Linked DNA regions of Homo sapiens: region 2 is linked to region 1. Evidence: fine-mapped expression QTL. Tissue or cell type: subcutaneous fat. Region 1 holds a variant in brackets; the other region holds the start of a gene. All regions are shown on one strand. Distances are from middle to middle.

Evidence for each region. PIP is the estimated chance that this variant, and not a neighbour inherited with it, causes the effect.
Region 2: CCDC124 starts here. The variant in region 1 is the best candidate, but not a certain one, in a credible set for the expression of CCDC124 in subcutaneous fat (GTEx, PIP 0.73).

The regions. Positions count from the first base shown.
Region 1 is chr19:17,873,636-17,877,789 of GRCh38, reverse strand. SLC5A5 (solute carrier family 5 member 5) reads right to left here. Exons shown (of 15, transcript NM_000453.3): 2 at 3,587-3,652; 3 at 3,245-3,296; 4 at 3,059-3,126; 5 at 1,684-1,838; 6 at 1-67. Among named protein-coding and RNA genes, the nearest start is that of SLC5A5, 3.8 kb to the right of the region's middle. RefSeq lists a silencer at 3,381-3,510 and an enhancer at 3,303-4,075. The variant G/A (reference allele first, on the strand shown) is at 2,039.
Region 2 is chr19:17,931,132-17,935,285 of GRCh38, reverse strand. It overlaps CCDC124 (coiled-coil domain containing 124), which reads right to left and starts at 2,271. Exons shown (of 5, transcript NM_001136203.2): 1 at 2,238-2,271. RefSeq lists a silencer at 2,109-2,158 and enhancers at 2,239-2,428, 2,449-2,508, 2,655-3,193.

The DNA of each region.
Region 1 (4,154 bases):
CCACACCAACGTGCCACCCACCACAAAAGTCCAGAATGTATAGCGGCTCCTCGGGTCAGGGTTAAAGCTGGGTGGGGACAGGGCAAGTTAGCCACGTGGAGATGTCACGCTGACTTCACCCTCCCAAGGGCCCCAGACAGCGCTTCTGGACCTTATAGGGGACATTTGGAGTGGGTTTTGTTGGCCAGGCGCAGTGGCTCATGCCTGTAATCCCAGCACTTTGGGAGGCCAAGGCGGATGGATCACCTGAGGTCACAGTTCAAGGCCAGCCTGGCCAACATGGTGAAACCCCATCTCTATAAAAATACAAAAATTAGCTGGGAATAATGGCGGGTGCCTCTAATCCCAGCTACTTGGGAGGCTGAGGCAGGAGAATCACTTCAACCCAGGAGGCGGAGGTTGCAGTGAGCTGAGATCGTGCCATTGCACTCCAGCCTGGGTGACAGAGCGAGACTCCATCTCAAAAAAAAAAAAATTAATTAAATTAAAAATAAATAAATAATAAATGGAGTGGGTTTGACATATGCATAGGCATTTGCCAGATTGAAAATTCACGTATTTGTTTACTGAATCATCTATCCACGCACTTAAAAACCTTTCTTTGCCCAGCTGAGAGTTCAGAGAGGCTTTAGCCCCCAATCTGGTCTGAGGGGAGGAGAAGAGAGCAGCGAGGGCCTCCTGGAGCAGGAGGCATTGGCTGATTTCTACCATCCCACGGCACAAAGGGAGCCCAGCCCCATCCTCTTTTTTTTTTTTTAAAGATGGAGTTTCGCTCTTGTTGCCCAGGCTGGAGTGCAATGGTGTGATCTCGGCTCACCGCAGCCTCCGCCTCCTGGGTTCAAGCGATTCTCCTGCCTCAGCCTCCCCGAGTAGCTGGAATTACAGGCATGCGCCACCACGCCCTGCTAATTTTTTTTTTTTTTAGGGGGGGGACGGAGTCTCTCTCTGTCACCAGGCGGGAGTGCAGTGATGCCATCTCGGCTCACTGCAACCTCTGCCTCCTGGGTTCAAGCAATTCTCCTGCCTCAGCCTCCTGAGTAGCTGGGATTACAGGCGCCTGCCAGCATGCCCAGCTAATTTTTGTATTTTTAGTAAAGACGGACTTTCATCAAGTTGGCCAGGATGGTCTCAATCTCTTGACCTCATGATCTGCCATCCTTGGCCTCCCAAAGTGCTGGGATTACAGGCGTGAGCCACCGCGCCCAGCCTAATTTTGTATTTTTTAGTAGAGATGGGGTTTCTCGATGTCGGTCATGCTGGTCTCAAATTCCTGACCTCAGGTGATCCCCCCGCCTTGGCCTCCCAAAGTGCTGGGATTACAGGCATGAACCACTGCACCCAGCCTCTTTTTTTTTTTTTTTTTGAGACAGGGTCTAGCTCTGTCATCCAGGCTGGAGTGCAGTAGTGTGATCTCAGCTTGCTGCAGCCTCCACCTACCGGGCTCAAGCAATCCTCCAGCCTCAGCCTCTCAACTACCTGGGACCACAGGTGCACCACCACGCCCAGCTAATTTTTGTATTTTTGTAGAGATGGGTTTTCACCATGTTGCCCAGGCTGGTCTTGAACTCCTGAGCTCAAGTGATCTGCCCGCCTCGGCCTCCCAAAGTGCTGGGATTACAGGCATGAGCCACCGCACTGGTCCCAGCCCCATCCTGCTGGAGTATCCTCTGCATTTTCACTCACTCCATGAGGTTGATCCGGGAGTGGTTCTGGGCCAGCGTGAGCACCTGGCGGGGCCCGCCCACAAGCATGACACCGCGTGCCAGGACAACCCAGAAGCCACTTAGCATCACCACGACCTGGAACACATCAGTCCAGACCACAGCCTTCATGCCGCCCTGCAGCATGGGACAGAGAGAGGGAGAGGGGCGGTTAGATGGGGGACCTGGCCTTCAGTGGTGCCTAGGACTGATGCCCTTCTATGCCTCAGTCTCCTCCTCTCTAAAGTGGGATTAATAATAATACCTTCTTACTGTGTTGTTGTAAGAATTAAGTTAGTTATTTTATTTTTAAAGAAAAGGTTTCTGTCTTTTGCCCA[G/A]GCTGGAGTGCAGTGGTGTGATCACAGCTCACTGCAGACTGGAACTCTTAGGCTCAAGTGATCCTCCTGCCTCAGCCTCCGGAGTAGCTGGAGCTACAGCAGGTGCCACCATGCCCGACTAATTTAAAAAAAATTTTTTTTGTAGAGATGGGGGCGGGGGGGGGTCTCACTATGTTGCCTAGGCTGGTCTCGAACCCCTGGCCTCAAGTGATCCTCCTACCTTGGCCTCTCAAAGTGCTGGGATTACAGGTATGAGCCACTGTGCCCAGTAGAATTAAACAAGTTAATAAGTGAAAAAGATTTGGAATATGACTTGACATATACGAGTGTCAGTGAGTGATTGCTGCCATTACTATTATTATTATTATTATTATATTTTTTTGAGATGGAGTCTTGCTCTGTCGCCCAGGCTGGAGTGCAATGGCGCAATCTCCACGCACCGCAACCTCCACCTCCCGGGTTCAAGCGATTCTCCTGCCTCAGCCTCCTGAGAGGCTAGGATTACAGGCGCGTGCCACTGCGCCCAGGTAATTTTTGTATTCTTAGTAGAGACGGGGTTTCATCATGTTGGCCAGGCTGGTCTCGAACTCCTGACCTTAGGTGATCCGCCTGCCTCTGCTTCCCAAAGTGCTGGGATTACAGACGTGAGCCACCGCGCCCGGCCGCCATTACTATTATTATCACTACGATGATAATATCGCCATCAAGGTCAGACCTGAGCCAGCCAAAGGTAGCCCTCCCTGGGACCTCAGCCAGCCCCAGGATGAAGCAGGAGCTCACTTCCTGCTGGACTGGAAGCCAGAAGAGGTGGAAGCCTGGATCCAGCCATGCCTGAAGCTACCATACCTCTAGATTCTCAGCAATAAGCTTTTCAGATCATTTTTCACTATAAAGATGAGGACACTGGGTCCCAGCTGGGACAGAGGCTTCCTCAGGAGAAAGGGGCAAGCCCAGAGTCTCCCCACAAGAGACACAGTGGGCCCGATCCCCCGTATGGAGTGAGTTCCCAGGGCCACTCACCACAGCCGTGTAGAAGGTGCAGATAATTCCGGTGGACAGGAGCGACGCCCAGATGTCCAGCCCGGTCACTATGCAAAAAGAGGTCCCCCTGTTAGGCCCCTGGGCGGGGCGCAAACTTAGTCTTGGGTTCTCCTCTCCCTCCCTTTCTCTTCCCAGACATGCTTCCCTAATCTCCCAGAGTCACACCTTGGTTCAGGATGAGGGCCGGTGCGTAGATTACGATGCCGGTGTACAGCATCTGTAGACAGAGTGTGGGGCGGGTGAGCAGGGAGGGCGTCTGGGCGAGTTGGGGATGGGGAGAGGAGGCAGAAGGGTGGTCCCAGAATATGGGCGGGGCAGATAGGCCGGGTCTTCCAGAGTGCAGGCGGGGTCAGGCCGGCTGTGGTGTGGGAGGGGACTGATGGGGGCGGGGTCAGAACGGGAGCATGGGGGGCGGGGTCTGGGCGGGGTCTTGAATGGTGGGGGCCGGGCTAGTGAAGGCTGACGCTCTCGGGGCCCTGAGCGGAGGGCGGGGCCGAGGCCACTCACCGTGGCTACAATGTACTGCAAAGTCCCGCAGAGCCGCACTGCGCGGCTGAAGCGCATCTCCAGGTACTGCAAGGAGGGACTCGAGGTCACCTGGACAGTCCTTACCCAGGAGCCGAGGCCTCTCGGGTCCCTGGTCTGCTCTCTAGGTGGGCCCCTCCCTCCGGAAGCCAACCGCGCCCGCCAGATTCTTGCACGTGGGGGCCCCGCCGCACGCACACACCCGTGCACAGGTGCCATCCCGTGCCTGTGCGTACCCCGTGGACCTGGAGGACTGGTCCATGCGTGTGCACGCGCCCTCCCACTTGCGCCTGACGGGCGCGGGCTCCTGGAGCAGCCACCGCTCAGCAGACACCGACGTGGCCCGCAAGCGCACAGTGTAGACAGTGCCCCGGGCCAATGGTGTTGGCCGCCTAGGATATACCTGTCACGATTTTTTTGGGGGGGAGGGGGGACGGAGTCTCGCTCTGTCGCCCAGGCTAGGGTGCACTGGCACGATCTCGGCTCACTGCAACCTCCGCCTCCCAGGTTCAAGCAATTCTTCTGCCTCAGCCTCCTGAGTAGCTGGGAT
Region 2 (4,154 bases), 57 kb before region 1:
TAACCATCAATCTGCTTTCTGTCTCTGTGGCTTTCCCTGTTCTGGACATTTCAGTCCATATCAATGGAATCACAGGCCGGGTGCGATCACTCACGTTTGTAATCCCCGTGCTTTGGGAGGCTGAGGCAGGAGGATTGCTTGAGGCCAGGAGTTCAAGACCAGCCTGGGCAACATAGCAAGAGTCCGTCTCTACAAAATAAAAAATAATTAGGCACAGTGGCTTGTGCCTGTAGTTCCAGCTACTTAGGAGGCTGAGGTGGAAGGATCGCCTGAGCGTAGGAGGCTGAGGCCACAGTGAGCTATGATTGTGCCACTGCACTCCAGCCTGGGCAACAGAACAAGACCCTGTCTCTTAAAAGAAAAAAAAAAAAAGGAAACAAGGAAACAAGGCACCAATACATACATGATACAATGTGGTTGAACCTCAACAACACAATACTAAGTGAAAGAAGCCAGACACAAAAGGCCACACAGTGTGAGAGTACATTTATTTATTTATTTTGGAGACAGGGTCTCACTCTGTCGCCCAGGCTGGAGTGCAGTGGCGAAATCTCGGCTTACTGCAGCCTTGACCTCCTGGGCTCAAGTGATCCTCCCACCTGAGCCTCCTAAGTAGCTGGGACTATAGGTGCAGGCCACCATGCCTAGCTTTTTTTTTTTTTTTTTAAGGCAGGGTCTGACTATGTTGCCCAGGCTGGCCTTGAACTCCTGGGCTCAAGTGATCCTCCCGCCTCGGCCTTCCAAAGTGCTGGGATTACAGGCCTGAGCCACTGCGCCTGGCCCTTCGTTCCTTTTTATGGCTGAATATTCCTCCACTGCATGGATACGCCACATTTTGTTTATCCATTGTCCACAGCTAGACATTTGGGCTGTTTCCACGTTGGGGCTTTTTTTTGTTTTGAGACGGAGTTTTGCTCTTTCACCCAGGCTGGAATGCAGTGGCACAATCTCGGCTCACTGCAACCTCCACCCACCCGGTTCAAGCAATTCTCCTGTTTCAGCCTCCCAAGCAGCTAGGATTACAGGCACCTGCCACCACGCCCGGCTAATTTTTGTATTTTTATAGAGATGGGGTTTCACCATGTTGGCATGTGCCACCATGCCTATCTGATTTTTGTATTTTTAGTAGAGACGGGGTTTCACTATGTTGGCCAGGCTGGTCTCAAACTCTTGACCTCAAGTGATCCGCTTGCCTCGGCCTCTCAAAGTGCCTGGATTACAGGTGTGAGCCACAGTGCCTGGCAATTTCTGCTGTTTAAGCCACCCAGTCTGTGGTATTAGTTATGACAGCCCAAGCTGGAAATACAGACACTTTTCTCTGTGTAGTAAACACTCACTCACTTGCACACGTCATTCAATAAATATGTACTGGGCACCTAATACGTGTGCGATGCTGGGGAAAGAGGTGGCACAAATGAGCTTTCTGCCTGCATGGGACTCCCAGAGAAGAGCCAACACATGCAATCAGAGTCCTAATAAGGACACGCAGGGCGCCGGGGAAGCCCGGAGAGGGCTTCTGACCCAGCCTGGGTCAAAGGGCTTCCTAAAGGAGACATCTAAGGAAAAGTCTGAATGAGTGGGGGAGAGCGCAGCCTGCACGCGGGATGCAGGAGGTAGGCTGGAAAAGGGGGCGATTTGTATTCCAGGGAGATGGGAAGGTGTGGAGGGCGTTAGAGCCGGGAAGCCCAATCTATGGGTCACACAAGCCCTCTGGGGTTAGTGAGGAGGTGGACTCCCCAGATGGCAGGAGCTGGGAGCCCAGGCGGTACCCAGGGAGTGGCTCAGGCTGGGCGAGGGGCACACTTAGAAGCGAATCAAGACCCATGGGGATTAAGACCCCACGGATGTGAAGGTAAAATAACAGAATACAAAATTCAACAATGCCTCCTCTAAGCAGCCCTCCCGGCTATCCCTTTTGAAGTCCCCCACCACTAATCCCCCTACAAGAGGCCGGGGGAGTCCGCGCCCAACTCTGTCCCTCTCGAGACCAGAAGCTGCCTAGGGGCAGTCCGGGGCCAGGTGGCCTCGAACATGCTGTCGCGTCGGGCTTCAATCGTCTAGTCTGGAAATGGGCATCGCCCCCAACTAGGTGCGGTTCAGACTGGACGCCAGAAGTGCTCCTGCCTCCCAGCACCCCTCCTCCAGCCTTCCCAGGGGATGGTCCCAGGCCAAGCAGCCCCCGCCCCGCGCCTCTGCTCCCCGAACCCGGGTTCCGCCCGCGCCGCAGACGCTCCTACCTTCTTACCCCAGCGCCGGCCCGGTCGCGCCTCCGTGACGTCATCATGGGGCCTGCGCGCTGAGCTCCTGGCGGCGCGCACTCATTGCGCCTCAGTACCGCCGCCATTTTGGTAAAGAAAAAGATGGCTGGGCCTCGGACCCAAGCCAGGGTAGTCAGCCACTTCTTTGTCTCTTCAAAAAGAGGACACTTAATACGCCCTCATTCCCTACGCTCATTTAATATGTTGATGAACCAGGAGGGGCGGGCAGAGGCGAAAATCTAGAACATTGCCTTTACCAAGATGGCCGATGCCCGGATGAAAGATGGCAGCTGCGACTACACACGTGGTCCGGCGGCTTCAGCCTGGAGCGGCCCGGCCGCCAGAGCGCGCCCGCGGTCCATGAGGGGAGGTGGACCCAGTATAGCCCTGAGGAAGCCTCTCCGTAGCTCTTCGCAATCCCTTAACGCTTTAAAAGTGCTTTCCTAGTCCTGAGTCTCTGCGTCCCACTGGTGACGCTGGGGCGGGGCTAGGAGAGGGGAGATAAATGGGGCAGAGAAATTAACACACACCGCGCAGTCCAGGTAGGGAAACCGAGGCTCAGAGAGACCAGGAATTGAGTTTGGCCAAAATGTAACCGCGAGTAGGCTCATAACCGCGAGTAGGCTCAAATTCCGTCTCTTGCTCCTGCCAGTGCCTCTTCCTGGATTGCTGACCTGCTCCCCACTTCTGCAATATTATTTATTAATTTTATTTAGAAATTAGGTTTGAGGCGCCAATTTGTCTTAGGCACTATACTTTAGATTTTCTGCATTTACTACTTCTCGGTGTTCTCAACAGTAAAAATGGCAGTATTAGGGGTCTAAGGTTACACTGGTCCTGACTGTGGAGAGGGAAAAGCAAATGCTTTGGGGGCAGTTCAGGTAGGAGTAGTTGACCACAGAGTCCATTCCCTAAAAGGCATCCCCCCAGCGACCTTGCTGGGACCTAAATCCCAGTGCGCGATGCACCTCCCCTGCTCTAACGCCTCCCCTGGGTTCCCATTGTCCCGCAAGACTCCTCCCACCTCCCACCCCATCTCCCTTGGCTTCCCTCACCCTCCCATTAGCTCTCTGCTCAGGTCGCACCAGCCCCCTTCTTACAAATTGCCAGGCGCAGTCTTGCCTCAGGGAGTTCCCCCAGGAATTTCCCAGGTTTTTCCGTGGCCAGTTCCTTCCCTTCAGGCATGAGACAGAAAGGTCTCTGGGTGCAGGGGGCTTAAAGTCGGAAAATCACATGAAAGATTATTATCCTGGCTGGTCGCAGTGGCACATGCCTGTGATCCCAACCCTTTGGAAGGCTAAGGTGGGAGGATCGCTTGAGGCCAGGTGTTTGAAAGCAGCCTGGGCAACATTATGAGACCCCATCTCGACAGAAGATAAAAACATTAGCTGGGCGTGGTGGCATGCTCATCCTCCCATTCAAGAGAATCACTTGAGCCCAGAAGTTGGAGGGTGCAGTGAGGTATGATAGCGCCACTGCACTCCAGCCAGCCTGGGTGAAGGAACCTCTCTTAAAAAATACTAATAAAGGCCAGGCATGGTGGCTCACGCCTGTAATCCTAGCACTTTGGGAGGCCGAGCCAGGCAGATCACCTGAGGTCAGGAGTTTGAGACCAGTCTGACCAACATGGTGAAACCCTGTTTCTACTAAAAACACAAAAATTAGCTGGGCGTGGTGGCACATGCCTGTAATCCCAGCTACTTGGGAGGCTGAGGCAGGAGAATCACTTGACCCCAGGAGGCAGAGATTGCAATGAGCCGAGATCGTGCCATTGCACTCCAGCCTGGGCTACAGAGTGCAACTCCATCTCAAAATAAATAAATAAATAATAATAATAAAGGCCAGGCGTGGTGGCTTATAGCTGTAATCCCAGCACTTCAGGAGACTGAGGCGGGC